Linked DNA regions of Homo sapiens. The protein of the gene in region 3 interacts with the protein of the main gene of each other region in a pairwise test. Each region holds a gene or a part of one and is shown on either strand. Other genes may lie near its edges. The genes, in order: COMP, CFAP410, ATOX1 and FAM118A.

The links.
Region 1: the proteins of ATOX1 (region 3) and COMP interact in binary tests that used the Homo sapiens proteins (3 or more experiments, as listed by UniProt).
Region 2: the proteins of ATOX1 (region 3) and CFAP410 interact in binary tests that used the Homo sapiens proteins (3 or more experiments, as listed by UniProt).
Region 4: the proteins of ATOX1 (region 3) and FAM118A interact in binary tests that used the Homo sapiens proteins (3 or more experiments, as listed by UniProt).

Annotation. Positions count from the first base shown.
Region 1 is NC_000019.10:18,788,306-18,796,717, forward strand, and holds the start of COMP (cartilage oligomeric matrix protein precursor), read right to left. Parts: upstream 3,001-8,412; 5' UTR 2,965-3,000; coding exon 2,886-2,964; intron 2,631-2,885; coding exon 2,545-2,630; intron 2,309-2,544; coding exon 2,257-2,308; intron 1,810-2,256; coding exon 1,637-1,809; intron 993-1,636; coding exon 855-992; intron 609-854; coding exon 534-608; intron 446-533; coding exon 287-445; intron 210-286; coding exon 105-209; intron 15-104; coding exon 1-14. UniProt on the Homo sapiens protein: Plays a role in the structural integrity of cartilage via its interaction with other extracellular matrix proteins such as the collagens and fibronectin.
Region 2 is NC_000021.9:44,336,078-44,343,543, forward strand, and holds the start of CFAP410 (nuclear encoded mitochondrial protein C21orf2), read right to left. Parts: upstream 3,314-7,466; 5' UTR 3,118-3,313; coding exon 3,041-3,117; intron 2,626-3,040; exon of another isoform or gene 2,356-2,625; coding exon of another isoform or gene 2,157-2,355; intron 1,591-2,156; coding exon 1,572-1,590; intron 844-1,571; exon of another isoform or gene 747-843; intron 1-746. UniProt on the Homo sapiens protein: Plays a role in cilia formation and/or maintenance. Plays a role in the regulation of cell morphology and cytoskeletal organization. Involved in DNA damage repair.
Region 3 is NC_000005.10:151,748,434-151,755,937, forward strand, and holds part of ATOX1 (copper transport protein ATOX1), read right to left. Parts: intron 5,690-7,504; exon of another isoform or gene 5,240-5,689; intron 4,877-5,239; exon of another isoform or gene 4,647-4,876; intron 3,347-4,646; coding exon 3,271-3,346; intron 1-3,270. UniProt on the Homo sapiens protein: Binds and deliver cytosolic copper to the copper ATPase proteins. May be important in cellular antioxidant defense.
Region 4 is NC_000022.11:45,319,716-45,327,219, forward strand, and holds part of FAM118A (protein FAM118A), read left to right. Parts: intron 1-1,886; exon of another isoform or gene 1,887-1,977; coding exon of another isoform or gene 1,978-2,078; intron 2,079-2,326; exon of another isoform or gene 2,327-2,331; coding exon of another isoform or gene 2,332-2,500; intron 2,501-2,655; coding exon of another isoform or gene 2,656-2,664; coding exon 2,665-2,711; intron 2,712-3,456; coding exon of another isoform or gene 3,457-3,459; coding exon 3,460-3,712; intron 3,713-4,361; coding exon of another isoform or gene 4,362-4,496; exon of another isoform or gene 4,497-6,761; intron 6,762-7,504.

The DNA.
Region 1 (8,412 bases), on a different chromosome or scaffold from region 3:
GTCACGCAGTTGTCCTGGGGGCGGGCACAGAAGGTGTGAGGGGCGCGGTCATGAAGTCCCGCCCTCCCTCCTGCCCAAGCCCGCCCCGCTCCGCCCCCACCCACCTTACGGCACTGGCGCTCCGGGCAGCGCAGCTTCTCGTCCGGGAAGCCGTCTAGGTCAGTGTCGCGACCACAGAGGATCCCGTTGCCGGCCCAGCCAACGGCACACTGTGGGAGAGTGTAAGTGGGTGCCCTGGAGTGGCCGCCACCCAACCCCGCCTCAAGCCCAGCCCGCCCGCACTCACCACGCACGACCGCGAGCCATCGCGCTCTAGGACGCAGTCTGCATGCTCGTGGCACTCGCTGGGCGAGCCGTCGGGGCAGAAGCGCTGTGCGCGCCGCTGGCAGCCGGACGCCTGGTCGCCCACGAAGCCGGGCTGGCACGGGCCGCACTGGAAGGAGCCCTGCGCCGGAGCCGCCGGAGGTCAGCGCAGGCCGCCCGCCGCTCGCCCCACCTCCCGCGATCCTTTCTTCCTCCCCAGCGGGCCTTACCCGGGTGTTGATGCACACGGAGTTGGGGACGCAGTTATGTTGCCCGGTCTCACACTCGTTGATGTCCGTGCAAACCTAGGGGAGGGGAACTCAGAGGTCACCACCCCACGCAGACACCTCCGGACCTCCCACCTCCTCCACACTTCCTCCGCATCCTGCCTCTCCCCTCCATCCTGCCCCAAACCGATCAGCCCTGGCGCAGCGGACCCCTCCTCTCCCCACCCCTCCCGCTGGAAGGAGGCTGGAAGAGGAGTTTACTGGTAAACAAAATGGACGCCCCCTTCCCTTCTGCTCCAAAAATGGGGCCCCCACACCTCTCACCTGCTTGTTGGCCTTGGCGAAAGCCAGCCCCACGCCCTGGTGGGTGGGGCCGCTGTACCCCGGCGGGCAAGCCTCGCAGCGGAACCCCGGGCTGGTGTTGATACAGCGGACTCGGGGGAAGCAGGGGTGGGCGTTGCACTGGGGGAGGAGGGGCCACAGAGGGTCAGAGGGCTTCGAGCTGGGCCCTGGGGGCCGCACCTCGTAGTGTCTCGGATGTGGAAAGTTCAAGGGCCATATGCCAGTGCTTGGAGCTCTGAGATGGAAGCAATTGTCGCAGGGGTCAGGCACGACTTTGCCTTGATGACGGCAAGGGCGCAACCGGGAGAGGAGAGGAGAGCTGTTCCCTCATGGGCGAGGGGAGGAAGGATGAGGGCGGGCATCCCCAGCAGAGGGGGGCAGGGGTCGTCGGGGCGTGCGTGCCCGGCGGTGGCGGGGGGTCTGGGCGTGCGTTCCCTGGCTGTGGAAGGGTCGTTGGGACTGGCGATCCCCTGCGGCGAGGAGGGTAGCTGGGGCGGACCACCCCTGGCGGTGAGGGAGTCGTCGGGGCGGGCGTCACTAGCTATGTAGGGGGTTGTGGGGGCGGGCGTCCCGGGTGGTGACGGGGATGGTCCTTGGGTTGGGCGTCCCCCCGCGGTAAGGAGGTAGTCTGGCCGTGCGCCCCCGGAGGTGAGAGGCTCTTCGGGGCGAACACTCCCAGTGGAGGAAGGGGTCTCCCGGGCGGCGAGAGATTGGGGGGCGGTAGAGGGAGTCGTCAGGGCGGTGGAGTGTCGGGGCTAGCGCACCTCGTTGACGTCGGTGCAGTGCGAGCCGTTGCCCGTGAAGCCCGCGGGGCAGGGGCCGCAGCGCGCGCCGCTCTCCGTCTGGATGCAGGCCACGCCGGGGAAGCAGAAGCCGGGCGCGCAGTGGAGCAGGGGCCGCACGCTGGGTAGGCCGGTGCGTACTGACTGCTGCATCCCTGCGGGGGGGAGGGGGGAGAAGCGGCGGGGCTGATCGGTGGCTCGCCCGGGGGCAGAGCCTATCATGGCCACGCCCCGGGGCTGGAGGCTTCCCCTTCCCCCCCACCCCCCGCCCCGGGGCGGCCCGAAATCCTGCGCTGTCCGCGATCCCGCCCCAGAGGCTGCGCGCTCTGACCGCGGGGTCTCCCCGGTCTCTTCTCTGAGTCTCTGTCCCGCTTTTCTGCCCCGTGGCGTCTCTCACTTCCCCAAAACTCTCTCACCGCTTCTGTCTCTTTTTGTCTCTGTTTCTACACACCCCATCCCATTCCCGTTCGTCCGTCCACCTCTCCGTCAGCCTCCATCTCCTTCCGTCTCTTTTCCTCCCCAGCTTTCCCTGGCTCTCTGTCTCTGTCTCTGTGTCTCTGTCTCCCGTCTCTTCTCTCTCCCGACCGCCCCGCCGCGCTCACCGCACGCGTCACACTCCATCACCGTGTTTTTCAGGAACGTGATCTCCCTGACCTGCAGGGGTGGGATGGAATCAGCGGGGTCCCAACCTCTCCTCATCCCTCGGGTCTCCCCTCTCTCTACCCCGGGGTCCCTTTCTACAGCCTCTTTTCGCCAAGGACTCCCTACCCGCCGACCCCCTTCCCTCCCCATCTCCTCTCCACCTTCTCGGGTACTTCCTCTCTCCTCGCTGGGAACTGAGACCCCCTTCCGTTCCCTGGCACTCCCTGCCCCGCACCCGGGCCCCGCACCTGCTGCCGCAGCAGCTCCCGCACGTCCTGCAGCGCCGCGTTGGTTTCCTGCAGTTCCCGAAGCATCTGCGGGCCCAGGTCTGAGCCTGCGGCGGCAGGGGACCTGGTGAGGCGTCATGGGGCCGGGGAATCCCACCACCAACTCCCACCGTTGCAGCGAACCCGGACCTCCGAGGCCCCACTGCGCTCCTCTAGTCTCGGTCCCGCCACCTGCTTTCTGCGCCCGGCACGTCCCCTACGAACAGTCCGTGAGCCCCAAACAGCCTGGATCCCGGGCCTCTCACGGGTCCTACAGTCCGTTGTGGGGCCGTGGGCACGGCGCGGGTGCTAACGCGGCTTACCCAACGGGCTCTGGCCCTGTCCGGACGCGCCGAGGGCAGCCAGGGTGAGCAGAAGAACGCAGGCGGTGTCGGGGACCATGGCGGTGGCGGGGAGCTGGGTGGCTGCTCGCTTTCTACCGCCCACGAGGCCCGCGGGGCCTATTTATCCCCAAGGCACGGCCGGCCCCAGGGACGGCCCACCACAGCCCTGCCCAACGTCCAGCCTCAAGGTAAACAGATGGCGCTGGCCCCTGCGTTCAAGTCCCCGCCCGGAATGCCCCGCGAAGTCGCCCGCGGCTGAATCCGACATGGTGGGGAAACTGAGTCCCGGGGTCTGTGGAGAGAGCTGGTGGGGCAGGGAGTCAGGGGGTACTGCCCCCACTTTCATTCACTGTGTGTGTGCGTCTGTGTGTGTGTGTGTGTGTGTGTGTGACGGGGTGTGGCTGTATCGCATCCTCTTGCTTCAGTCTCCCATGTAGCTGGGACTACAAGCCCGCACCACCAAGTCCAGCTAATTTATTTTTATTTTTATTTTTATTTTTAGAGACCGGGTCTGGCTATGTCCTGCAGGCTAGTAGTCTCAAACTCCCGGCCTCAAGCGATACTCCCCACATAACTGGGATTACAGGATCCAGCCATAGCATTCAGCTCATTGATTGATTGATTGATTGAGTGCTTGCTGTATGCCAAACCTGAGTTCCAGTTCCAAACAAGGCAGGCTCCATGGCCACGCTCTCAGCTCACACTTCGGGAAACAGAGTCACCAGCGTCTGAAAAAATAGGTCCACCCACTATGGATCAGACTGACTGGCCCTCCACTCCTCCTGAAGTGCTTCAAAACTGGGTAAGTTGCTGGGTGCGGTGGCTCACACCTGTAATCCCAGCACTTTGGGAAGCCAAGGCGGGCAGATCACCTGAGGTCAGGAGTTTGAGACCAGCCTGGCTAACATGGTGAAACCCCATCTCTACTAAAAGTACAAAAATTACCCAGGCGTAATTCCTCCCTTGCACAATGGAGGTAATAAGTTAATAATTATTAATTAATGATTAATAGTAATGATGATTATGATGATGAATGGAAAATAGGGGAGGGGCAGTTGAGACCTGGGACTCTCAATTTTCCTGCCTCTGTCCAAGGAGGCCGCTTCTGGCCCCAACGCTGGAGGGCTGCAAATGACTCCCCCCAACCCAACTCATTGCTGGTGTTCCCTCCCCTCCCCATGGTCCCTCGGCTGGTGGAGGAGGGGACAGCGTTCAGGATCTTGCCCCAACCCCTGTCCAAGGGGACAGGCCCACTTGGTTTTCCAATCTGCGCAATGGGGTGTGAGGCCCCCATCTGGAGGGGAGCAAGTTAAAGGGCTCTAGCAAGGGGAGGTCCGGGGCTTCTGTTTGTCCAGGCTGTGCCATACCTTCCAAACTGTGCTCCAGCTGCTGTGGGAACAGCCTGTAATAAAAATAAAAGTTACCGCTAACTGGCCAGCCACACTCTGGAGTTACAAAACCCCTTAACCTCCTGCAATCAGTTAACACTCTCCACTCCCACCTTCCAGTACTCACAGCGTCTATTCTATAGACAGAGAAACTGAGGCCCAGAGAGAAAAAGTGACTGGCCTAAGGCCACTGCCCGAGGGCAGGGGTGAATCTAGACTCAGAGCCAGATATGTTTTCTGGGGAGCCTACAGAGAAGTCACCGAGGGCTTCCTGGAGGAGGTAGCAAGGAGACAGACATAAAAGAAAAGGAGGACTTGGATCAGCAGAGGGAAAAGGTGAGGGCAGTTTTGGTGGAGGGAAGCATGTGAAGCTTGGAGGTGGGGACATTTCTAGACACAATAATTATTTCACAAACATCAAGGACTGTTGTGTGTCATGTCTCCTGTGCTGGGTGATGGGCACACAGGGTGAAGAAGCCAGACCCAGTCTCTCCTTCAAATGGGGAGCCCAGTGGGCTCATGGCTGTGACGGGACACACAGACAATGGTAGGAGTCCCCAGGAAATTGATCTGTTTGAAAGGGGATGGGTCAGGGCGGGCTTCTGGAGGAGGAGGGACCACCAAGCTGAGGACCGGATGATGAGGAGGACACAGCCAGGCAGAGGTAGCAGAAAGTCATTCCAGGTAGAGGAAACAGCATAGGCAAAGGCCCTGAGGCAGGAACCAACCTGGCCCGTTGGATGGACTGACCTCAAGGTGACAAGCTCTTGGGGCTCAGTGAGAAGCAGGAGATGAGGCTGTGTGTGAAAGGGCAGTGCTGGTGGTGTGGGGCTCCAGTGGTCTCCCGAGGGTAATGGGGAGCCACAGAGAGTGCGTGAAGAGAGACAGGCCTATAAGTGGAGTGTTGGTGGAAGCAGCTGGTCCCAGCCAGAGCATTTCCAATGAAGCCTGTCCTCAATAGTGCCTGCCCTGCCTGCTGCCTACATTGGGGCCATGAGCTCACCTCCTGTTTTCCTTGGCCTTCAGCACACCTGGGGGCCGCTCCTGGCAGCACTGGAATTCTCGGGAAAACCACAGCTCCAGTGGGGCCTGGGGGCTGGCATATGCTGCACACAGCTAGGACAGGAGCACATGGAAGCCAGGCCCCTGCCACAGGCTGGTCACAGTGCTGGGGCTTGGACACACGTGGCCTTATCCATGGCTGGGCCACGGGGAGTTGCAGGGAAGGGCATTCCAGGCGGAGGGAACTACAAAGGTGGAGTTCCTGAGGGTGTCCCAAGATCGGACAACAGAGGCCCGGAAAGGGGATGTCTGGGGTCACACTCCTGCCTCCTGGATCTCGCCAGCCCTGAAATCCCCCTTCTAGGCAGCAGTCCCCTCCTCCTGTGCACACCACACTTGCCTCAGATTACAGAATAACTCACTGTAGGTGTCATTCTGGGCCTTTGTACCTGCTGTTCCCCCCACCTCGTACAAACTCCTCCATCCTTCAAGGTCCAGCTATAATGTCCCCTCCTCCAGGAAGCCTTCCCTGCTGATATTCTCCAGATAACCTTCCAGCCTAGCCATGATCCTCGGGACTGTGAGTGTCTGTGGTTTGCTCTGTCCCTCCGAGCCTGAGGGGCTCCCACCCAGGGGCCTGGACTGGTGTAGAAAGGTTAGGCTGGAGGGCTTGGTGAGCCGGGACAGCATCCCTATGATTCGTGTTCATTACTATTTTTTTTTTTTTTTTTTGAGATGGAGTCTCACTTTTGTCGCCCAGCTGGAGTGCGATGGTGCAATCTCGGCTCACTGCAACCTCTGCCTCCTGAGTTCAAGTGATTCCCCTGCTTCAGCCTCCTGAGTAGCTGGGATTACTGGCACCTGCCACCACGCCCAGCTAATTTTTTTATATTTTTAGTAGAGACGGGGTTTCACCATGTTGGCCAGGTTGGTCTCGAACTTCTGACCTCAGGTGATCCACCTGCCTCAGCCTCCCAAAGTGCTGGGATTACAGGCGTGAGCCACCGCGCCTGGCCATTACTACTTTTTATAATTAATGTAATGTCATTACTATTTTTTTTTTTTTTTAAAATAGAGATGGGGGTCTTATTATGTTGCCCAGGCTAGTCTCGAACTCCTGGGCTCAACAGATCCTCCTTCCTCGGCCTCTCAAAACCCTGGGATTTCAGCCACTGCACCCAGCCAACATTATCATATGAATCCTAGTAACCCCTGCCACCTCTGTACTTGATATGGCAGGGAAGGGGGCCACACAGCCTGGGTTCAAATATTGGTGAGCATGGCCTTACTGTGTGACCTAGGACAAGTCACTTAACCTCTCTGTGCTTCAGTTTTCTCACCCATAAAATGAGGATGATCACTGTTGAGAGGATTGAATGAGCTGACCCATGGAAATCCTTCAGCCCAGCGCCCAGCTCCAGCGCTACTAGCGTGCTTATTCCATATGAAATTTATACACCGTGGGCCAGTGTGGTGGCTCACACCTATAATCCCAGCACTTTGGGAGGCCACAGCAGGTGGATCACCTGAGGCCAGGAGTTCGAGACCAGTGTGGCCAACGTGAAACTCCATCTCTACTCAAAATACAAAAATTAGCTGGACGTGGTGGCGCGTGCCTGTAATCCCAGCTAATCGGGAGGCTGAGGCAGGAGAATCACTTGAACCGGGGAGGCAGAGGTTGCAGTGAGCCGAGATCACATCACTGCACTCCAGCCTGGGCGACCGAGTGAGACCTTGTCTCAAAAAAACAAAACAAAACAAAAAAACTTATACCCTGTGCCTGTCGCTTATACCTCAGATCGTTCTTATTTCTATCTTACTCAGAGAGGAGAAGAGACAGTCTGAGGTCACACAGCCAGAATTAGAACTGAGGCATGCAAGACCCTCAAGCCCTTCATACCCGCCCTCTCTGTCCTTGCCACAGAAACAGAATCCAGCATTTCGCTGGCCCGAGCCCCTCATTAACTGGGATGTCTTCTCGGCCCAGGACCTCCTGGCCAGAGCATCTGGCCGGCGCCCCAGCCAGCCCCACACCAGGCCCCGTGGTTCCAGGAGCCCGGCCAGGCTGGGGAAGAGGGACGGGTGCCTGCATGATGGGGCCCCGGGGCCCTTCCTGGCAGACGTCTGCTCAGCCAGGAGACGTGTGGGCGCCCCGGCTCCCTGCCTCCCGCCCCCACCGTTGCCTGCCTTTGTGAATGCAGAAGGAAAGTATGTTGTGAAGGCAGCCGCCCTGCCCTGGGCGGGCCGGGCTGTAGGCCCCCAGTCTGCGGAATTCATCAGGGCGGCAGGGGAGGGCAGCTTGGCGACCTCTGCATCCTCAGCCTGCCTTGAACTGGGAGAGACGTACTGGAGGCATCTCTCTAGAAGGAACAAAAGGCAGGGGTGGGATGGGGGGCTCTGAGCTTTGAAGTCCAGGAGACGCCCCCCGACTGGCCGTGTGACCTTTGGCAGGTGCCACCTCCTCTCCCAGTCTCCTTTTTTTTTTTTTTTTTTTTGAAACAGGGTCTTGCTCTGTTGCCTGGCCTGAAGTACAGTGACAATCATAGCTCACTCATTGCAGCCTCCAACTTCTGGGCTCAAGTGATCCTCCCACCTCAGCCTCCCAAAGTGCTGGGATCACAGATGTGCACCACTGCACCCAGCCCCATTCTCCTTTTACTCAGTCCCTACCCCCATTGCATCCCAGGCTCTACTGGATGGCGATAAAGGAAGAAGACAACAATAAATACAGTGGCTACAGTTTTCTTGAGCAAGTGCCAAATGCTTGAAACCTTACCACTCAGCCTTTGTGGGTTTTCTCTTTCTGTCATCCCTTAAGTCCCAGAAGGCAGGAATTTGTCATCATGGGAGACAGTGGGGCACAGTGATGAAGGTCTCAGTCTCTGGCATCAGAGCCTGAGTTTCATATCCCAGCTCTGCTGTGGTACATGAGGCAAGTTGCTTAACCTCTCTGTGCCTCAGTTTCTTCTTTTTTCCTTTATTTCTTCTTCTTTTTTTTGCCACCTTCGAAAGTTTCTTATAATGTAAAATTTTACTTCTCAGGTTACTATACTGAAGAGTTGCTTCAGGAGAGAAAGAATTTCACCAGAGGCCGGGCGTGGTGGCTCACGTCTGTA
Region 2 (7,466 bases), on a different chromosome or scaffold from region 3:
AGCGGCCCTGCTCAGCCAGTGTGCCCAGGGTGAATGCCCAGGGCCTGAGGGGAGCGGCCCTGCTCAGCCAGTGTGCCCAGGATGAATGCCCACGAGTATGCCAGGTTCTCCTCTGACACCACCTTGCAGCCCAGACGCCCCGCAGACTGAAGGAGAAATGTGAGGCTCCTCCTTGCACGCACTCTGTCTTTATTAAATTTTACGACAGCATCGTTGCTGTCAGATGCTGCCAGCAGTGGAGACAGAGCATTCATTACTTTAGATGCCCTCAAAGGACATCAGGTAAGGGGACCCCAATGTCCCCTACGCAGGGATAGAAAGCAAGGAAAGGATGGAAATCCCTTCTTGATAACAGGTCTAGGCCAAAAGGAAGACAGGCTTGAGACTGGATCTCAGATCACATTGGTACTGTCAATTCAGGGGTGAGGTGCCCGGGGTGGTCCACAAAGCCTCACAACCTGCAAAGCTCCCACATATGTGAGAGCCCACCATACGCCAGGCATGGCACCAGCAGCTCACAGCCTGGTCAGATGCGTCCCATGTATAAGTGACTCGTGTCTATGGACATGGTACGTTTGTATATTCACTGCTAAACATGCAGTATTTCAGTTACAGCACAAAACAGATTACACCCAGATGCCACGTATCCAGGCTTTTTTTTGTCTTTAAGAAAAGGTACAGTTCAAATTAAAAAAACAAAGGAAAATAAAGAGATAAATAATTGCGCTGGACATGGTGGCTCATACCTGTAATTCCAATACTTTGCGAGGCTGAGGCAGGTGGATCACCTGAACTCAGGGGGTTTGAGACCAGCCTGGCCGACACAGTGAAACTCCATCTCTACTAAAAAGTACAAAAATTAGCCAGGCATGGTGGTGGGTGCCTGTAGTCCCAGCTACTCAAAGGCTGAGGCAGGAAAATTGCTTGAACCCGGGAGGCAGAGGTTGCAGTGAGCCAAGATCGTGCCACTGTACTCCAGCCTGGGCAACAGAGAGAGACTCCGTGTAAAAAAAAAAAAAAAAGAAAGAAACAATTGGTATGCGATCCCTGTGTAAGTTGGGGACATTTTGGACTGAGAAAGACAATGAGGGAGAGAAGAAAAAAATCTTTCACAGACGCACACACTCAAGTTCTCCCAGCAGGGCTTATTCTCTGCCTGCCTTTGGGGCAGCGGCAAGGGGGTACAAGGCTAGATGTGACCAAGAAGAGGGGGTGTAGACCTTCAACTTCCCCGTAACAAAGTAAAACAAGCCCTCCTGGGATTCCTTTCCAGGTGAGAGCAAGTTCCAAACTATTGCTCCCCTCCTCTGCGACCAAGTGACAAAGGGTGTTTCATTTATAGGGATGTTGACGGGAACTGCAAAATAAGCCTGGCACTAGAGAATTGTTTTTCCATTAGTGGTTCTGCAGAATGAAAACCGCTAAGTGAACAAAGTACCAAGTGTGGGACTGAATTGATAGGTGCAGTTTTGTCAACTTAAAAATTCTCTTGGGAAAGAAGCTACAACATTTGGGTTGAGGCTATTTGGAGATGATCAGTGCAATACTTACATCTGTGAGGCAATACTTACATCTGTGAGGCGGCTGCCCCTGGGGAGAGAAAAGATACATACTTTAATTTTGTTAAAGTTGAATAAAAAACACTGAAGACAAAAATTCCAAAAATCACCGATGACTCCCTACAAACCTTAAGATTCTAGGATTTTAATGGCATGGCAAAAAAGGAAGGTTGCCCAGATAACTGGCAAAGGTGTAAACAATTGTTTTAGCTGATTTTCAACTAAACTGTATGTTTGACGTTGGGGTGGTACTTTTTAGATAAGGAGCAGCAGGGTTGCTCCATTTGTAAGACACAAAAAGATGAACTCTTCCTCATGGTCCCTGAGTAGCAGAAGGTTCATTTCTCTCACTGACAGACATAAACAAGGGCGTCTTTATAAGAGGTCAAGTTCAAAGGGTGAACAGGCAACTTATGAAGCAAACTTTAAAAGCCTGAAACAGGGTTGTTGTTTCTCCCAGCTTAGTGGGAGTACTGACCACCCCATGCAAAACAAAGAAATGCATTATTGAAAGCAAATGACACGGGAATTGTAGCCAAAACACCAGATATGCCAGGGCAGAGAGAAAAGCTTTTTAATTAACAGGGAAGAGCTCACTCTGGGCAGTCTGCGGACACCCCTGGGAGGAAGCGTCTGCTCTCGCTGACCCCCACACCCGCCTGCACGGTGAGGCCAGTTGACACGGCGCGGTCACTCTGCTGAGTCCCCAGGGAACCCTGGAGATCTTGCAGGCCTCAACTCCAGGCTCCCTCTTCTGGAAGCTCCTGGTCTTCCTTGGCTCAGTGAGACTCAGCATTACCTGCCTTTCAGCCTGCCTGGGTCCCACCGCACCCACGTCCCTTCCTGTCACCTGCTAGGAGTACCCTGGGAACGGCCGCCCCCAGTACTGATTACCAACGTGTTTCCTGACTCAGTCCTGGAAAGCTCAGTTCTCTCTCCTATTCGACTTGGTCCCAGTGACTGCTGGCAACCCCAGACAACAGACCCAGCCCACAGGGCACCCGGGGCAAAGGCGGGCCGGGAAATGGGGGGGGGCCCAGGCGACCCCGACCCCCGGCCTCCTCCCCTCCCTCACCCGCGGCTCCTTCGCCGCCCTCGCCCCTGCCCCTCCCCCCTTCCACTCCGCCCCCGCCCCGCCCCGCCCCGGCTCCTCCCTCCGGCTCCGCCCTCGTCCCGCCCCGGCTCCTCCCTCCGGCTCCGCCCTCGTCCCGCCCCGGCTCCTCCCTCCGGCTCCGCCCTCGTCCCGCCCCGGCTCCTCCCTCCGGCTCCGCCCTCTCCCCGCCCCGGCTCCGCCCTCTCCCCGCCCCGGCTCCGCCCTCTCCCCGCCCCGGCTCCTCCCTCCGGCTCCGCCCTCGTCCCGCCCCGGCTCCTCCCTCCGGCTCCGCCCTCTCCCCGCCCCGGCTCCTCCCTCCGGCTCCGCCCTCGCCCCGCCCCGGCTCCTCCCCCCACCCCGGGGCGGCCGCGGCCAGGCCCCGCCTCACCAGCAGTTGAGCTTGCGCACGCTGTGCAGCTCCGAGGCCTTGGCCCGGGTCAGAACCATCTTCCGCGTCAGCTTCATGGCGGCCGCCCAGGCCCGACCGGCGGGCGCCCCCGGCCTCCTGATCCCGGGCGGGTGACGACTGCGCGGCGCGTGTCTCCAGGGGCGGGGCCCGCGTCGTCAGGGGCGGATCCTGAGCCGATTGGCGGCTCGGTGAGGAGAGCGGGGCGACGCGAGCCCGCTGGGGCCGCTTGGGCGCCGCTGACACGTTGGCTCTGCTCCTGCTCATGCGCGGCCTGGGGCGCCCTTCTCTGACGCGATTCTAACGCGACCCCGGAAGCGCGCAGCGAGCAGAGGGTGGGTGCAGGTGGCGGTCCCCGAGTCGGCCCAGTGAGGGCTGAACTGCTGCTCCCAGGAACCGAGCGGGGTGGGCTCGGTCCGACGCGCATCATGGCCGAGTGCCTAGGCCTGACTCTGAGCGCAGGCCTAGCGTGGATGGCATGGGCGCTACACAGCTCCAAGTTACGCGATTCAAACTCTTGGAATAAACCCAGGGCAGCCCTGGGGCTGTGTTGATTCCTTGTCTCCCTCCCTCCCAGCATTTACAGAAAAGACGCATTTATAGGAAAGACGCACGGGCAGGTCCAGCAGAGCCCTTACAAGCATTTCAACCTTTTAGAAATCAGATAAGACCCTCTAAACATCGTTACATGGGCCACAGTTACATTAAGACAGGCGTTCTGACGTTCTGAAACCGCCTTTGCAAAAAATTGTATCGGTGAGAGAAGGTTGGCCTTGAAGGAGATCTGGCCAACCCCCATCTTGCCTTTGGCCTTAAAACTGCCCTTAATTATTCCTGGATAAGCAAAGGTAACTTTGGGAGACATTTATAGTTTAAGTGATAGCAGCCCTTCCTCAAAACTAAACAGCCTTTGTAAAGCTAATGAGACCACTGAAACCGCCTTTGCAAAAATCATAACTGAAGAAATTATGACAGGGGAAGATCTCCTCACCCACCCCATCTTCCTGCTATCCTCTAAGCTGCTTTTGTTCATTCCTGGGTGTAGACCAGACTAGCCTTGGGAAGGAATTTAGTTTATAGATTAAACTGAAACAAAATTGATAATAGCCCTTTCCCAAAAAAACCCTTCTTGCCTGGGGACCAGTCTGCCTTTGTAGGACTAACAAATTAAGCTACGAGATTAAAAATTACAGTTTAGGGGCCATGCAACCTCTGGCGGCAAGAGTCTGAACCTCCCCAAATTGCTTCTGGGAATAACATCACTGTTGCAAAACTTAAGGTCAGTGCTTGAAATATTTTGTAGACCCTGCATTCAGATGCAGCAGATGACACCACCCAAACGGATAATCTGGCTCAACCATGTGTGTGATCCCACCCAGGGACAGAAGTCAGCCAGAACTCATTTTGACCCCCTATGATTTAATCTTCGACCTGACCAATCAGCACTCACCACTTTCTGAGCCCATACCCGCCAAATTATCCTTAAAAACACGGATCCCCGAATGCTTGGGGAGACTGATTTGAGTGATAATAAAACTCTGCTCTCCTGCACAGCCAGCTCTGTGTGTATTACTCTTTCTCCATTGCAATTCCGTTGCCTTGATAAATCGGTTCTGTCTAGGCAGTGGGCAAGGCGAACCCATTGGGCGGTTACACTACCAGCCTAGAAGGATAGAGGAGCATGAATTCCACTAAGATGCAGATGTAAACATTCGTCAGCCATTATTCTGGAGGTCACAAGATAAGCTACTTCCCCAATTACTCCTGCAGGTAACATCACTATTGTACCTTTGCAGGTTTCTTGCATGTCTCACACGGATGGATCCAGCTAAATGTCTTGCCAACAGCTCCTGTGGCCCCACCCAGAAGCCATGCAGCACAAAAGGACCAAAAGGACAGCTAGATTTCATCTCGCACCTAACCAATCAGCACTCCCCATGCCCTAGCCCCCTGTTCACCAAACTACCTTTGAACAACCCCTAACCCATGAGCCTTCAATTGTAACCGAGCAGCTTAGCAGCTGTGAATCCAAAATATCTGAGACAGGACTCAATCTGTTTAGAAAGTTTATTTTGTCAAGGTTAAGGACAAGCCCATGACACAGCCTCAGGAGGTCCTGATGACATGTGCCCTGGGTGGCTGGGGCACAGCTTGCTTTCATACATTTTTAGGGAGACATGAGACATCAATCAATATGTGTAAGATGGAAAAAGAAGAAAAAATATATGTATAAGATGTACATTAAGCCGGGCGCGGTGGCTCACGCCTATAATCCCAGTACTTTGGGAGGCTGAGGCAGGTGGATGGCCTGAGGTCAGGAGTTCGAGACCAGCCTGGCCAACATAGTGAAACCCTGTCTCTACTAAAAATACAAAAAATTAGCTGGGCGCGGTGGTGGGTTTCACTCGTGTCCATGTGAAGAGACCACCAAACAGGCTTTGTGTGAGCAATCAAGCTGTTTATTTCACCTGGGTGCAGGTGGGCTGAGTCTGAAAAGAGAGTCAGTGAAGGGAGATAAGGGTGGGGCCGTTTTATAGGATTTGGGTAGATAAAGGAAAATTATAGTCAAAGGGGGGTTGTTCTCTGGCGGGCAGAGTGGGAGTCACAAGGTGCTCAGTAGGGGAGCTTTTGAGCCAGGATGAGCCAGGAGAAGGAATTTCACAAGACAATGTTATCAGTTAAGGCAGGAACAGGCCATTTTCACTTCTTTTATGGTGGAATGTCATCAGTTAAGGCGAGAACCAGCCATCTGGATGTGTACGTGCAGGTCACAGGGGACATGGTGGCTTAGCTTGGGCTCAGAGGCCTGACAGTGGGCGCCTGTAATCCCAACTACTTTGGAGGCTGAGGCAGGAGAATCGCTTGAACCCGGGAGGCAGAGGTTGCAGTGAGCCGAGACTGTGCCATTGCACTCCAGTCTGCGCAACAAGAGCGAGACTCCGTCTTAAAAAAAAAAAAAAGATGTACATTAGTTCAGTCTGGAAAGGCAGGACACCTTGAAGGCCGGGTGGGGTTGTGGGGGTGGAGGGAGGCTTCCAGCTTCCAGGTCATCGGTGGATAAGAGACAAAAGATTGCATTCTTTTGAGTCCTTTCACTGAATACACAATTTGGTCTAGCTTAGTAAATCTGCATTTTTACATAAACAATAAGGCAGAGAAAGCAAACAGATAGGCATGTGTCTCCGGTGAGCAGGGGGATGACCTCCTGTCCCACACCTGTGAAGATCAGCTATCAGTTTACATTCCAGGGTGAAATTCAACAGAACTGTTTGAGGGTAAAGATCTTGAGGCCCACAAGGAATTTCCTTGTGGGCAAATTGTGAGGGAGCTTCATAGCTTTTTATCTTTGTAGCGATCTTATTTAGGAATAAAATTGGAGGCAGGTTTGCCTGATGCATTTTCCAGCTGACTTTTCCCTTGACTTAGTGATTTTAAGGTCTTGAGCTTTATATTCCTTTCACACAGCTAAGCCTCAAACCATGTTTTAAAACTTTTTCCCCTTTCCCCTTTCCTCCTCCTCCACCCTAGTCTGAAGATGTAACTGAGACAAGCTGCTTGTGTTACCTTCCATCTTGAAATACAGCCTGGGAATGTGAACCTCCACTCCGTTCCCATCCTGTGCTCTCAGGCCTTATGCACATTTAGTTTACCTGGATGCCTGTTAAGCACACACCATGCTCACTTATCTGGTCATCTCTTTGCTTGGAAGCTTCAGGGGTCAGCTCCTGAAAGGGACCGGACACCTCATTCTGTCTCCAACAAGATTACTTCAAGGCCAGAACTCACTCTCGGCCTTGAAGTAATTGAGGACTAAACTCTGATTTTTCTTTTTTTATCTTGCCCAAATTCCTAAAGGGCATGGACAGTCATGCCCTACAAACCATAAATTCTCATCAGATGGGTTTTATTTAACCTTCTATATCGTGGTGTTGACAAAAAGAGTCAAACTCTGTAAAATATTTTAAGAGATTTATTCTGAGCCAGATATGAATGACCATGGCCCGTGACGCAGCCCTCAGGAAATCCTGAGAACATGTGTCCAAGGTGGTCGGGGCACAGCTTGGTTTTTTACTTTTTAGGAAGGCATGAGACAGCAATCTAATACATTTAAGAAATACGTTGGTTTGATTCAGAAAGGCGGGACAACTCAAAGTGGGGGCTTCCAGGCTATCGGTGAATTTAAACATTTTCTGGTTGACGGTTGAGTTTGTCTAAAGACCTGGGATCCATAGAAAGGAAATGCTCAGGTTCAGATAAAAGACTGTGGAGACCGCTGGGCACGGGGGCTCACGCCTGTAATCCCAGCACTTTGGGAGGCCGAGGCGGGCGGATCGCGAGGTCAGGAGATCGAGACCATCCTGGCTAACACGGTGAAACCCTGTCTCTACTAAAAATACAAAAAACAAAC
Region 3 (7,504 bases):
TCTTTTAGGGCCATAAGCAACTCAAAAAACCCTCCTGACCCTTCTCAAGAGGCCACCCAAGCAGGGACAGTAGGAAAAGATGGGCAGAAACCTGCCGAAGCTTAAAGGCAGATCTTCCAGCAAGGGGCCTTAAAAATCATATGGTTGGCCAGGCGTGGTGGCTCATGTCTGTAATCCCAGCACTTTGGGAGGCTGAGGCGAGTGGATCACTTGAGGTCAGAAGTTCAAGACCAGCCTGGCTAACGTGGTGAAACCCCATCTCTACTAAAAATACAAAAATTAGCTCAGTGTGTGGCATGTGCCTGTAATCCCAGCTTCTCGGGAGGCTGGGGCAGGAGAATCACTTGAACCTGGGAGGCAGAGGTTGCAGTGAGCCAAGATCATGCCACTGCACTCCAGCCTGGGAGACAGAGTGAGACTCCCTCTCAAAACAAACAAACAAACAAACAAAACATATGGTTTCCCAGCCTGCATAACAAAGCAAGACCCTGTCTCTACAAAAAACAAAAACAAAAACAAAAAAATAGCCGGGTGTGGTCCTGTAGTCCCAGCTACTCAGGAGGCTGAGGTGGGAGGATGGCTTGAGCCTGGGAAGTTGAGGCTGCAGTGAGCCAAGACCGCGCCACTGCACTCCAGCCTGGATGAAGTTCCTGGGATGGGTAGATGTCTTTGAGCTGTCAAACGAAATTAGGCCCATCCCCACTTCATCCAGAGCCTGCTGCTTTGTATTTGAGGAGCTCCTGTACAGTTTCATTTTTAAAGCATCAACAGGCTGGGCACGGTGGCTCACGCCTGTAATCCCAGCACTTTGGGGGACCAAGGTGGGCAGGTCACCTAAGGTCAGGAGTTTGAGACCAGCCTGGCCAAGATAGAGAAACCCCGTCTCTACTAAAAATACAAAATTAGCCGGGCATGGTGGCCTGAGCCTGTAATCCCAGATACTCAGGAGGCTGAGGCAGGAGAATCGCTTGAACCTGGGAGGTGGAGGTTGCGGTGGGCTGAGATCACGCCATTGCACTCTAGCCTGGGCAACAAGAGCGAAATTCTGCCTCAGAAAAAAAAAAAAAATTAGCCAGGCGTGGTGGCGGGCACCTATAATCCCAGCTACTCGGGAGGCTGAGGCAGGAGAATCGCTTGAACCCGGGGCAGAGTGGAGCAGGTTGCAGTGAGCAGAGATCATGCCACTTCACTCCACTCTAGCCTGGGTGAAAGAGCAAACTCCATCTCCAAAAAAAAAAAAAAAGAAAAAGAAAAAAAAAAGCATCAACAGCAAAAGCTGATACAGACATACAAGATATACATTCCCATACCACAGCTGGGGAAACCCAGGCCCGAGAAAGAAGGGCCCACAGTCACATGACAAGTCAGCAGCTAGGTTCTTTCCACTGTTTCAGTTTCTTTCAGATTAAGATCCCAGTTTACAGGGCTAGAGGCCAGCCACTGACTTGCTGCGGGACTACGGGCAAGTCACTTAACCTCCTGGACACTGGCATCGACATCCCCATTCCAAAGATGGAAAGTACAGCTCAGAGGACTGCTAATGAGATCACGTCCATGTGGAAGCCATTTGAAAACTTAATGTCATTATTATTTAGGGTTTTAAAAAAGAAAATTTTAGAAGATTGTGTGATAGTTCATGTGGAAGAAAAAGAAAAGAAAAAATCTTAGAAGGCTGACTGAGCACTGGCATTGCCAAAACTCTGATCACAACTCAGTTATTACCTCACTGAGTCCCAGGACCAGATCCCAGTCCTCTCTGGGCCTCAGTTTCCCCAGCTGTAAAATGACAAGGCTGGATGAGACTGATTGTTCAAAAGAGGTGCTTTAAGAATATCTGCATGTGGCCAGGTGCGGTGGCTCATGCCTGTAACCCTAGCACTTTGGGAGACCAAAGCAGGCGGATTACTTGAGGTCAAGAGTTCAAGACCAGCCTGGCCAACATGGTGAAATCCATATCTATGAAAAGTACAAAAATTCACCGGAAATCGCCTGAACCCAGGAGGCAGAGGCTGCAATGAGCTGAGATCATGCCACTGCACTCCAGCCTGGGCAACAAACAGAGTGAGACTTCATCTCAAAAAAAAAAAAAAAAAAATCTGCATGTGAGTGATTCAAAATTAATTTAAATTTTTTTTTTTGAAGTAAAGAAACAGAAAAAGACAAAATTTTAAAAATTTTTACCTTTTTTTAAATCTTTCCTTTTTTTCTTTCTTTTTTTTTTTTTTTTTTTGGAGACAGGGTCTTGCTCTGTTGCCCCCACTGCAGTGCAGTGGCACGATCTAGGCTCACTGTGGCCTTAACCTCCCAGGCTCAAGCGATCTTCCCACCTCAGCCCCCTAAATTAGCTGTGAGTACAGGCATGTAACACCATGCCTGGCTAATTTTTTTGGTATTTTTTGTAGAGATGGCATTTTACCATGTTGCCCAGGCTGGTCTCGGGAACTCCTGAGCTCAGGCAATCTGCCCGCCTCAGCCTTCCGAAATGCTGGGATCACAGGTGTGAGCCACCGTGCCCAGCCCCATTTAAAAAACCTTAATAGAGGCTGCGTAGGGTGGCTCGCGCCTGTAATCCCAGCACTTTGGGAGGCCGAGGCGGGCAGATCACCTGAGGTCAGGGGTTCGAGACCAGCCTGACCAACATGGAGAAACCCCGTCTGTACTGAAAATACAAAATGAGCCAGGCGTGGTGGTGCATGCCTGTAATCCCAGCTACTTGGAAGGCTGAGGCAAGAGAATTGCTTGAACCTGGGAGGCGGAGGTTGCAACAAGCCGAGATTGCACCATTGCACTCCAGGCTGAGCAAGAAGAGCGAAACTCTGTCTCAAAAAAAAAAAAAAAAAAAAAAATTCAATAGAAAATGACACTCAGATGTGTCATGCAGTACACACTGGAGATGACCAACATATGAACTAGTACTGCCATGGCTCCAGAGCTACTCCTGGCAGTACTAGTTAATTTGGCTAAATCCCAGCTCTGCCATTTACTGACCATGTGATCCCAGATAAGTTATTTAATGTTTCTGAACTTCAGCTGTCTCCTGTTTAACATGGAGCTAGTAAAAAAAAAACTATCTGAAATGGCCGTGGTGAGGATTAAATGATGTGATTCACATAAGCCACTAAGAAAATAACAAGAGTAGTTGGCACGTGCTAAGTACTCAATATATTTTAGTTTTACTGTTATGATCAGCTTAACCCTAAGTCTCTCCTGCAACATCTGCATGCATCTGAACATGGCATAAGTGCACCCAACTCAGGGCCACTCACTCACCTCCAAGCTTATTGAGGACCCGAGAGACAGCTTCAGCACAGCCTCCACAGGTCATGTCCACAGAGAACTCGTGCTTCTGAAACAAACACAGGGGGACCATGACCCGAGCCCTGTAGAGTGACCCCCACACAGTGCCAGCAGACAGGCCCACTCAGGGTCAAGACAGAAGACAGAGAGACTGGGCAGGACCTGGTTGGCATCAGACTCATCAGAAGCCTGTTTCTGAGCCCGTCTCTTCAACTATAGAGTAGCTAAGAGTTTCTACCTCACAAGTTGTATTCAATGGAATCATCCCTATAAATCCTTTAGCAGTGTCTGGCACATAGTAAATAGAATCACCTGGAGATCTAGTTTAAAATGCTTTTTCCCAGTCCTACCTTCAAAACACTGATTCTTGAGCTATGAGCTTTGTCTCAGGGCCACCAGTAACTCTGACAGGGATGGGCCCCCATACTCTGAGCAATGCTGATCTGGTGGGCCCACTTATGAACCACAAAATTATTTTCTGCACTAGAGTCACCTACAGCTTGCAAAAACTACAGGTTCTGGTCAGCAGGTCTGGGCTGGGGAATCTGTTATGTCTACTCATTACCCCAGGTGATTCTGCTTTCATCCAAGGGCCGCATTCTCAGAGGCAGCATCTGGGTCCAGGGAAAGAAAGGATTGCCTGGGTTCCCCAGTGGGTTGGAGGCCAGGCAGGAAGGGATCCCCGGCTCCTAGTCTTCATGTAAGCTCTACATTCTACAGTCTCTAGGATATCTAACAGATCAAGGGTCTGAAGGTAAGCTCCCAGAAGACAGAGGTTTTGTTCAGTTCACTACTGGATTCCTAATACTTGGAACAGTGCCTGGACAGAGTAGGTGCTTAAAACTTATTTTTGAGTCAATGGATAATTGACATGGCTGGTTTGAACTTCTGGATCTTTTGCTTTGCTTTCACACAAGGATTACTTATACCAATACTTTATTTTAAAATCTCTGGAAATGAGACCATCTGAAATCAGATAAATATGGCTTCAGATACCAGCTCTGGCACTACTAGTTGCATGATCATCAATATGTTACTTCTCTGTGCCTTAGTTTCCACATCTGAAAATTGAGGGTAAGAGTCCCTCTCTAGATTTGTGAATGGGATGAACACAGGATTTTAAGTACGGTTAGCCAGCATCCAAGATGGCCTCAATGATCTCTGCCTCTGGTATTTATGCCCTTGAGTAATCCCATTCCACATGTCTCGGGTTGGTCTGTGTGTCTTATAGAATATGGCTTGAAGTGAGGTTATGTGGCTTCTGAAGCTATCACAATGTCATAAAGGACACTGTGACTTCTGTCTTGCTCCATTTCTGGGGTCACTTGCACTAGAGGAAGTCAGCTACTAAATTACAAAGAAATTCCAGCAACCACAAGGAGAGGTCCACAAAGTGAGAGATTGAACCCTCGAGCTAACAAGCATGTGAGTGAGACATGTTGGAAGTGGATTCTCCAGCTCCAGTCAAGCCTTCAGATGAATGCAGCTCCAGCCAACATCTCACTGCAGCTTTATGAGAGCCTCTGAGCTGGAGCCACTAGGCCAAGCTGTTCCCAAATTCCTGACTCTCAGAAACTGTGTGAGTTACTATAAATATATTTGTTGTTTTATACTACAAAGTTTTGGGATAATTACTAAGGAGCAATAGATAACTAACACATTAAGGAAATTAGAGCCTAGTACTAGGTTCCGTTGGGTAAAAGGTTAGCTATTGGATTATTAATTTCTTCCATTTGTCTCTCCTGTTTCCCTTCAAAAATCAATGGCTACATTTTTCATGGAGCACTTCAAAATATTTGAAGTCTATTACCTCAGTTGGAATCCTGGGTGTAGTGATATATCTTGCTAGAAAACCACAGGCAAAATCTCTGCTCCAGAAGGGCTCCAGTTCCCTAATCTATACCAAAAGGGTATTAGCTAACTCAATTTTTTTCAACTTTAGTGTGCATAGGAAGAATCTGGGGACCTTGTGGAAAGTGCAGCTCCCAGACACCTGCCTCAACTGACTCTGTGGATGTGGAGCGGGCCCTGCCACTCCCCATTTTTAACCTACTGGGGAGAGAACGGGAGGCAAAACTACAAACCTGAAAATAAAGTGGCTAAGTGGCTTCTCAAACTCTTTCCAAGTCTCTAAACACCGCTGAGTCTGGATTGTCACTGTGCTCTACAGAGGAAACGAAGACCAAGAATTAAGCAGCTCGATTTTCCAGTGCAGACTGTTTGACCTTTGTGACTAGTAAACCACTCCTTTTATTAAGGCCAAATCTGCAAAATCTGTCTTAAAGAAAATGGTCAGTCTTTCCTTTCTTCTAAACATCTCTGATTTTTTCATCTTGTTTCCTGACTATTCACAGACAGCAACAATAACAGATTCTGGAAAGAAGGATTTGTAGTAAGTATTACAAAATCTTGTCTTTAAAATGTGGTCCTCAGCCCAACAATATGAGCATCACCTGAGAGCCTGTCAGAAATGCAGAATCTCAGGTCCCTTCCCAGAAGTCCGGAATCAGAATCCTCATTTTAACAAGACACCCAAGTCATTCCTCCCCACATTACAGTCTGAGATGATGCTCTCCTCTATTAAAAAGTTTTTTTAGGCTGGGCAATGTGGCTCATGCCTATAATCTCAACACTTTGGGAGGCTGAGGCAGGTAGATCACCTGAGGTCACAAGTTTGAGACCAGTCTGGCCAACATGGCAAAACCTGTTTCTCTACTAAAAATAGAAAAAAAATTAGCCAGGCATGGTGGCAGGTGCCTGTAATCCCAGCTACTTAGGAGGCTGAGGCAGGAAAATCACTTAAACCCAGGAGTTTGAGACTAGCCTGGGCAATACAGTGAGATCATGGCTCCATTTAATTTAAAAGAAAAAAATTGTTTTGGAAAAAAAAATGATGATGCTCTGGAACATGGATTGGCACACTACAAACTACCTGTTTTACAAAGAGTTTTGTTAAAACATAGCCCAAATCGGGCCAGGTGTGGTGGCTCATGCCTGTAATCCCAGCATTTTTGGGAGGCTGAGGCGGGAGGATCACGAGGTCAAGAGATCGAGACCATTCTGGCCAACATGGTGAAACCCCATCTCTACTAAAAATACAAAAATTAGCTGGTAGTGGTGGCATGCGCCTGTAGTCCCAGCTACTCAAGAGGCTGAGGCAGGAGAATCGCTTGACCCAGGAGGCGGAGGTTGCAGTGAGCCAAGACCATGCCATTGCACTCCAGCCTGGCAAGAGAGCGAGACACCGTCCAAAAAAAAAAAAAAAAAAAAAGAAACACAAAAACAAAAAACTACAGCCAAACTCATTTGTTTACTTTTGCACTAGAATGGCAGAGTTGAGTAGTTGTACCAGAGACCCTATGGTTTGTGAAGACTAAAATGTTTACTATCGGTGCCGTGTAAAAAAAAAAGTTTGCTGAGTCTTGCTCTAGGATAACCAGCAGAAAATCAATTCATCTATGGTTTGTACTTATATACTGAGCCAAAGCTTTGAAGGGTTTGCAAGATCAACATAAGAGCTAAATCTACTGATTGTCTATTACATGTCAAATTATCTTTGTACAGTATCTAAGTTAGTCCTCACTGAGCCTGGAAAGAGAGCTATTTATCTTATTTCACTCAGGAGGAAAGTGAAGTTCCCAAGAGTTCACTAGGTAGCTTGCAGTCATGTGGCAAATAACTACTGAGTATGGAATATGAACCTAGGCTTTCTTCGCTCCAGGGAAATCTTGCTGGTTCTGGAAAAGCAAAGTACACCGCCAGCCCTCATAACCCTGACTCTCAGCAGAAGCTCTGAAACTAGAAACACATTTTTAGGGAGCACAGTTTTTTGCTGCCCAAGGACCTAAAGTCAACAGATACCTGAAACTTTCTGTCGCTGACTACAGGGAGTAGGTCCCATCCCCCACAGTATAAAGGTCAGAAGCCAGAAACCAGCTTCTGGGTATAAACATTACAGTTCAGTGCTCTCCTCCTCCACCTCTGAGGGGCAAAAATAAATTTGAGGGTGATGGAAAATCTATTTCATGGACAGAGTAATCACTTCTTTATAGGAGAATCTCAAGATTGGCTCTACCACCAGATGCATAACTGGGTAGTTCTGGTTCCTCATGGCCTCTGGGGTCTTTTATAAAGACTTATAAAATGGGTAGATTTTAAAAGCCAGTAGGTTTAAAGTAGGTTTTTAAAGTCAGTAAGTGGGATGATT
Region 4 (7,504 bases), on a different chromosome or scaffold from region 3:
AAACTCAACTTCTGTTACTTTCCTTAGAAAGTATCTAGTAGATTAAAAAAACAAAAGATTAGTTTGATGACTGATGTTAACTCCTCAATGGGAAGAAGGATGTGTTAGGGCCAAGCCCCAGCCCGGACTCTGCCAGTCTTTCCCTGGGGCAGGTTACAGGCATCTGTGAGCCTCGTTTTCTTTGCCTGTGGACTGTGATTTCTTAGCATTTGGGGTAAGGTCGCAGACATGTTTGGGAGTTGATGGAAGCTGTGAACTCTCCCTAGGAAAATATATGCATGGACTTAGGTAGTTGTTTACATTTTCAAAGGATAACGGGGATCCCATTTAGCTCTGCGATCTAATGATGCTTATGGACTGATTAAGCCTTGTTTCCTTACCCTGGAAAATTACTTTTGATGACCTGATTCTAGTGGCTGGGTGTGTGTGTGTGAGTGAAGATTACACATGTGAAAAAGTGATTTTTCAGCCAGTTGCTGTGGCTCATGCCTGTAATCCCAGCACTTTGGGAGGCCGATGCAGGCGGATCACAAGGTCAAAGATCGAGACCATCCTGGCTAACATGGTGAAATCCCGTCTCTATGAAAAATACAAAAATTAGCCGGATGTGGTGGCGCAGGCCTGTGCCACTGCACTCCAGCCTGGTGACAAAGCGAGACTCCATCAAAAAAAAACAAACAAACACGTAATTTTTCTTTTTCTTTTCTTCCTTCTTCTTCTTCTTTTTTTTTTTCTTTTTAAGACAGGGTCTCACTCTGCGACCCAGGCTGGAGTGCAGTGGCACAGTCGTGGTTCACTGCAGCCTCAACCTCCTGGGCTCAGGTGATTTTACCATTCAGCCTTCCAAGTAGCTGGGACTACAGATGAGCACCACCACATTGGCTAATTTTTGTATTTTTTGTAGAGATGGGGTTTCCCCATGATGTTGCCCAGGCTGGTCTTGAAATTCTGGGCTCAAGGGATCCTCCCACCTCAGCCTCCCAAAGTGCTGGGATTACAGATGTGAGCCAGCGTACTCTGCCAAAGTCATTTTCAGTCAGTGCTGGTTTGGATGTGGCAAAGCGAGCACTGACGTGTTCTGCTGACCACTTTTCTGGAAAGCGGTTTGGTGGTGTGTGCTAAGATATTTTACAGTGTTCATACTCTCTAACTCAGCAGTTCTTCTCAGAAATCTCTCCTAAATAAATAATTTCACAATATACAGGCTTTGTGCACTAAGTCGGTGGTCAGGGTGTTATACTAACATTCTGCATCAGACATGTGTCAGTAAGAGAGAATTCCATATATATACATTACACTTACATTTATGAATAGTTTTTAATAACATAAAGGAGATGTATTTATTTTAATGCATGAAAAAGTAGGATATGCACTGTGTTCTCAAATTATGTCAATACTTTTGTTTGTTTGTTTATTTTTGAGACGGAGTCTTGCTCTGTTGCCTAGGCTGGAGTGCAGTGGCGCGATCTCAGCTCACTGCAACCTCCACCTCCTGGGTTCAAGTGATTCTCCTGCCTCAGCCTCCCTTGTAAACATTTTTAAAAGAGAGTAGAGGGAATATATAAATGTTAACAGTTACTGCTCACAGGTCATAGGATTATAGGCAAAACCTTATTTTTCTGTATTTTTCCTTGCTTACAGTAGATATTATTTCTAGAATTGGGGGGAAACGCGATTTTGGAAAATTTTTATTTTTTATTTATTTTTTATTTTTGAAACAAGGTCTCACCCTGTTGCCCAGGCTGGAGTGGAGTGGTGTGACGTGGCCATGGCTCATTGCAGTCTCAACCTCCCAGGCTCAGGCGACCCTCCCACCTCAGCCTTCCTAGTAGATGGGACTACAGGCATGCACCACCATGCCTGGCAAATTTTTTTATTCTTTGTAGAGACAGGATCTTGCTGTATTGCCCAGGCCGGTCTTGAACTCCTGAGTTCAAGCAGTCCACCTTGGCCTCCCAAAATGCTGGGATTACAAGCATGAGCCACCATGCCTGGTCTGATTTTGGAAAAATTAAAGAATATGGAGATAGCTTGGTGAAAGAGACCCAGATGGTTTGGGATTTCTGTTTTTATATAAGGTAAGAATTGGCTTTTTACTTGGATGACTTCTTTAGAGTGGATTTCAGTAAGGCCGAGGGGAGGGCTGGTGCCTTGGAGCTGGTGCCGATGCTGAGGATGGCCATGCTCCAGTCCAGTGCTCTGCACCTTAGAGCACTCGTTGGCTTCCTCTGCAAAACCGCCTCTGGCTTCGCTTTGTTGTGCCGCTTGCTGTGTTTTGCTTCTCTGATAAGTCATCTGTGTTCATGTGCACTGGAAATTCTTCTAGAGCAGTGTCCCAAGAGACAGCGAAAACCCCAGCTCGGAGCCCACAGAGCCCATCCTTCATCTGCTCCTGTGTGTGCGTTTTCCTTCTGTGCTGTCCCGTGTAGAACAGCGAGAGTCCAACCAGCCTGATGAGTCTCATGAGATGAGGAATGGTGGCTTAGGAAGCATTTTGGATGTACGTCATTTGCGTATGACATTTTTCAGATATTATAATTTAAGTAAAGATTGAGGACCTTTGATTTTAATTCTAGCCTTAACTATCTTCCAGGGTGCAAATAAAAACTTTTACCTGGGAGACAGAAGTCACTTCTGACTAATTTTTCTCTTTAGAATTCACAGATGGATTCAGTGGAAAAGACAACAAATAGAAGTGAACAAAAATCCAGGTAATTAAAGGCAACTATACCTTCAAGCAGCTTCATTGACTTCATCTAGCGTCTCTCGTGAGTGTGCGCACTCGTTCTTTAGTACCTGCAAGGGCGAAAGTGAAATGGAAACACTGGGGCATGAGAGAACCTCGAGGGCCATTTTCCACCCTTGGCTTCAATGTAAGGAACGTTCCAGAAGGCAGCTTTCTGCCCAGTCTCCAAACCAAGCAACATGTCATTAGAGGTGTCATGTCTAGAACTGGGAGTGTCAGGCTTCCTAAGAAAGAATTCTTTGACTACAGATGGACAGCAGCTTGTGTTTGCTATAAAGTGAAGCGCGATAAAGAGGTACTTACTGTTGGGATTGGTGGGTGGCAGGAAACCAGCATTTGCCAGTAACTGTCTTATCCGTCACTGCAAGCAGGGGTCATTTTGTCATCATCGTTTGTATTCATAACCTGTGTGCAGCTTCAAAGGAATGATATGTATCACTTAAATTGAGCTTAACACTGGGCAACTTAAAATGCATGAGACACAGCTGTCCCACGTCCTTTAAGGAATAAGGGTAGAACATGTGAAATAAATACGCAAAGAAGGATACACAGGCCGTCTCCCCACAGCGTCAGAGGGGACTGTGTGTGTGTGTGTGTGTGTGTGTGTGTGTGTGTACACAGCACAAGGCCGGAACTCGCAGACAGTTCCAGACTTTGTGTTTGCAATGTTTCCGCTTTGACTTTCATTCTCTTGCTCCCTTCTTTTCAAGTAGAAAGTTTTTAAAAAGCCTCATCCGGAAACAGCCCCAGGAACTGCTCCTGGTTATCGGGACTGGCGTCAGCGCAGCAGTGGCCCCCGGAATCCCTGCCCTTTGCTCGTGGAGAAGCTGCATCGAGGCCGTCATCGAGGCTGCAGAGCAGCTGGAGGTGCTGCACCCCGGAGACGTCGCCGAGTTCCGGAGGAAAGTGACAAAGGACCGGGACCTGTTGGTTGTCGCCCATGATCTGATCCGGAAGATGTCACCTGTAAGTGTCAGACAAGTACCTCTTGGGGACAGCTTGGTTCTGCAGCAGGTTGGATGAGTCTGTGAACCTAATGTTAAACTCTGCAGGCCTAACTTGTGTTCAGTGCTCAGCAGAGTCGGGCTGATGAGCCAGAAATCCTTGAGTCCATCGGGGTGTCGTCTTTTAAAATTGAGGGGATGCCAGCCACACTGCAGCGTGGGGCTCCTAAAGTAGCTCCTATTAAATGGAGCCTGACTGTGTGAGATCGTCTCAGGGAGATTGTCCAGCTGCACTCAGTATGAACTTTGTGATTGTATATTCACTTAGTGAAGGGATATCCCTTAGGCGTGTTTGGTGTAAGCAGGCCGGCCATATTTCTTCAGATGACAGGTGCTTCCTAGAAAACATCTGAAGATGGGAGAAGTTCCAGCTTCTTTGTCTGCTGCAGAGATGATCTAGATGATCTAGTTGAGAGGAGAAGCACTGATGATTCAGGAGCTATTCCTGAGCGAGGCCCTGGGGCCGATGGGTCTGGTGCAGGGGAAGGTGCGTGGCAGGCCATTGTTGTCCCCGTCAGCTATGGCGTGTGGCCATAAAGGCTGGGAAGCTGGACCCTATGGCTGGGGCTCTTGGCAGTCATTGTCTTCTTCTGCTCTTGTATTTACTGAAGAGGCACAGTCACCATCTGAGAGTCAGGACGGGAGGAGATGTTGGACGTTTGAACAGAGGAGAGAGCACGAAAAAAAGTGAGCTCGTCACCAAGGAGAGTGGGAGAGTTGAGGTTGGCTGTGAAAGGAGACCTTAAACCACATGGCTTCATGTGAGCACCTTTATAATCCCCACCTAGAGACCCGGGTGGGCAGCCCAAGGAGAACATGGTGGCCGGGCAGGGCCCCTCTTTGCTGGCTCTGCCACCCTCAACAGGCAGCTTCCGTCGGGTGCCCTGCGGGCAGCTGTAAATGATGTGCGTGCGCGGGGAGTGCGTGGAGGAGGGAAGTGCGGGGAGGGGAGGAAGTGGGGGGCTTCAAGGGCCACCACTGAAGTCACATACACCGCTTCTGTTTCATCTCATTGGCCAGAGTTTTAGCTAGGGCTGCACCTAGCAGAGCTTGGGAAATGTTTTTAGTCAGGTGACTCTGCCACTCATGGGTGTTCTATTAATAAGGAACACCTTTCATCACAGGCCAGGGGTTGGAAATGTACAGCCTTGGGCCTGTTTTTGCAAATGAGGTTCTGACAGGCGGCCACACCCATTCATTTACGTATAGTACGTGGCTGCTTTCATGCCTCCAGGCCCAGGTGAGTAGTTGGAACAGAGACTTTCTGGCCCACAAGGCCTAAAATACTTCCTCTCTGAGGCAGGGGCGCGGTGGCTCACGCCTGTAATCCCAGCACTTTGGGAGGCCGAGGCAGGCAGATCACCTGAGGTCAGGAGTTTGAGACCAGCCTGGCCAATGTGATGAAACTCTGTCTCTACTAAAAATACAAAAATTAACCTGGCGTGGTGGCAGGCGCCTGTAATCCCAGCTACTCAGGAGGCTGAGGCAGGAGAATCGCTTGAACCTGGGAGGCAGAGGTTGCAATGAACCAAGATTGTGCCATTGCACTCTATCCTGGGCAACAAAAGTGAAACTCCATCTCAAAATATTTTCTCTCTGGCCCTTGTAGACAACATTTGCTCACCCGTCATAGGAAGAAGAAGGGAGGAGTCGAAGGGAGGCCAGGGAAGGGTAGTGGGGTCGCTGGGCAGCACTGAGGGCCCTTGTTGTCCTTCAGGTGAAGAGAGACTGTTTGTCTAGAATGAGAATCGTTTGTCTTGAAAACAAGTAGTTGAGCATCATTCAACTCTTCTGTTCACTTTTGCGTGTTTTTGAAAACCTCCATCAGGAAGCGTTGAGGTGAGGCTGTCGACACAGCTGTGTTGAGAGTCGGAGAACAGGCATGGGGGAAGCTGAGAGTTGGTTGCATCAGGAATTCCAGCAACACCAGAGAAGGGTGAGGGGCTTGCAAGTGTATTGGGGGAAGTTGTAGTGATCCATTGTAGACTCTAAGCTGCTTGATGGAAGAAGGCAGGACAGGACAGCAGGGCAGCTAGTGACTGGTCAGTGATAGTGGGGTCAGTAGCTCACGGGCCTCAATGGGCTTGAAGTTTCCCTGGGAGCCAGGGTGCTAGAGAGGTGGGCAGATGGGAGGGAGTGGTTGGACAGGGGAAGCTGGCCCAGAGGTTCTGGAAAGGATCCAGGTCTTGGTAACGATAAGGCCTTGGGGGCTGTATGTGTGGATGGCTGAGATGGACCAGGACTATTGGAGGAGAGTGATGGCTGGAATTTAGAGGCCATGATCCCAGGGAGAATCATCCAAGCGGACATGAGAATCACCCCAAATTATGACGGCACAGCTGGAGAGACTCAGCCCTCACCTTCATCGGTGCAGGGAGTGCAGGGGAGCCCCCAGGAAGGGTCTCAGGGATGCATAGAGCCAGGTCTCAGGTCGGGGAGAAGGTGAGCATTCCCAGGAGATGATGGAGATGTGGGGGTTGGCTGATGGCAGACCCCCTGGGAACAGTGGGAGGGTTTGGGTGGTGGGAGAGTCAGAAGAGCTGTGGCGATGAGTGGGAACCTATGAGTCTTGGTTTTCTTGTGCCGGCCAAGCAACACGAACAGGCACAGAGGGCGAGGGGAGGTATTTTGATACCCAGGTGCCGAGGCAGAGGGTGACAATGAGGCTGGGAGCCGGGCAGAGGGGACCCTGTGTCCTCCTGAACCCGCCCCCACCCCGCCTCTCTGTCCCCTCCCAGCAAAGCTCTGCAGCATGGTTGCTGCATCTGCTGTCACCAGCCCTTCCTTTTTCTCTTGAAGCCATCCCAGCCAGGCTTTGGCTGTCAAGGCCCCTTGGAGACAGCTCCTGTCAAGGCCACCGGTGAAACACTGAGGCTGCTTCCGGAGGCCAGGCCTCAGTCCTGATCCTCTTGTGTCTCTCAGAGTATATGCGGCACTACGGGCCAGGTGTGCTGGCTCATGCCTGTAATCCCAGCACTTTGGGAGGCCAAGGTGGGCAGATCACTTGAGGGCAGGAGTTCAAGATAAGCCTGGGCAACATAGCGAGACCTCGTCTCTACAAAAAATAAAAAAAAATTTAGGCCGGGTATAGTGGCTCACGCCTGTAATCCCAGCACTTTGGGAGGCTGAGGCAGGTGGATCACCTGAGGTCAGGAGTTTGAGACCAGCCTGGCCAACATGGTGAAACCCCATCTCTACTAAAAATACAAAAATTAGCTGGGTGTGGTGGTGCGCACCTGTAGTCCCAGCAACTTGGGAGGCTGAGGCAGGAGAATTGCTTGAACCAGGAGGGGAGGTTGCAGTGAGCCAAGATCACGCCACTGCATTTCATCCTGGGTGACAGAGCAAGACTCTGTCTCAAAAAAAAAAAAAAAAAAAAAAAGTTAAAAAATTAACTAGGTGTTATGGTGTGTGTGCACCTATAGTCCCAGCTACTTGGGAGGCTGAGGTTGGAGGATCACTTGAGCCTGGGAGATCAAGGCTGCAGAGGGCCGTGATCGTGCCACTCACTGCACTCCAGCCTGGGTGACAGAGTGAGACTCTGTCTCAAAAAATAAAATAATAAAATGAAAAATGAAATAAAATAATATAAAAAATTAAATTAAAAAAATTTTTAAAAAATATAATGAGTTGGGTGTGGTGGTGGCACCTGTAGCCCTAGCTACTTGGGAGGCTTAGGTGGCAAGCTCGCTTGGGCCCAGGAGTTGGAGGCTGCAGTGAGCTATCCTGGCACCACTGTGCTCCAGCCTGGATG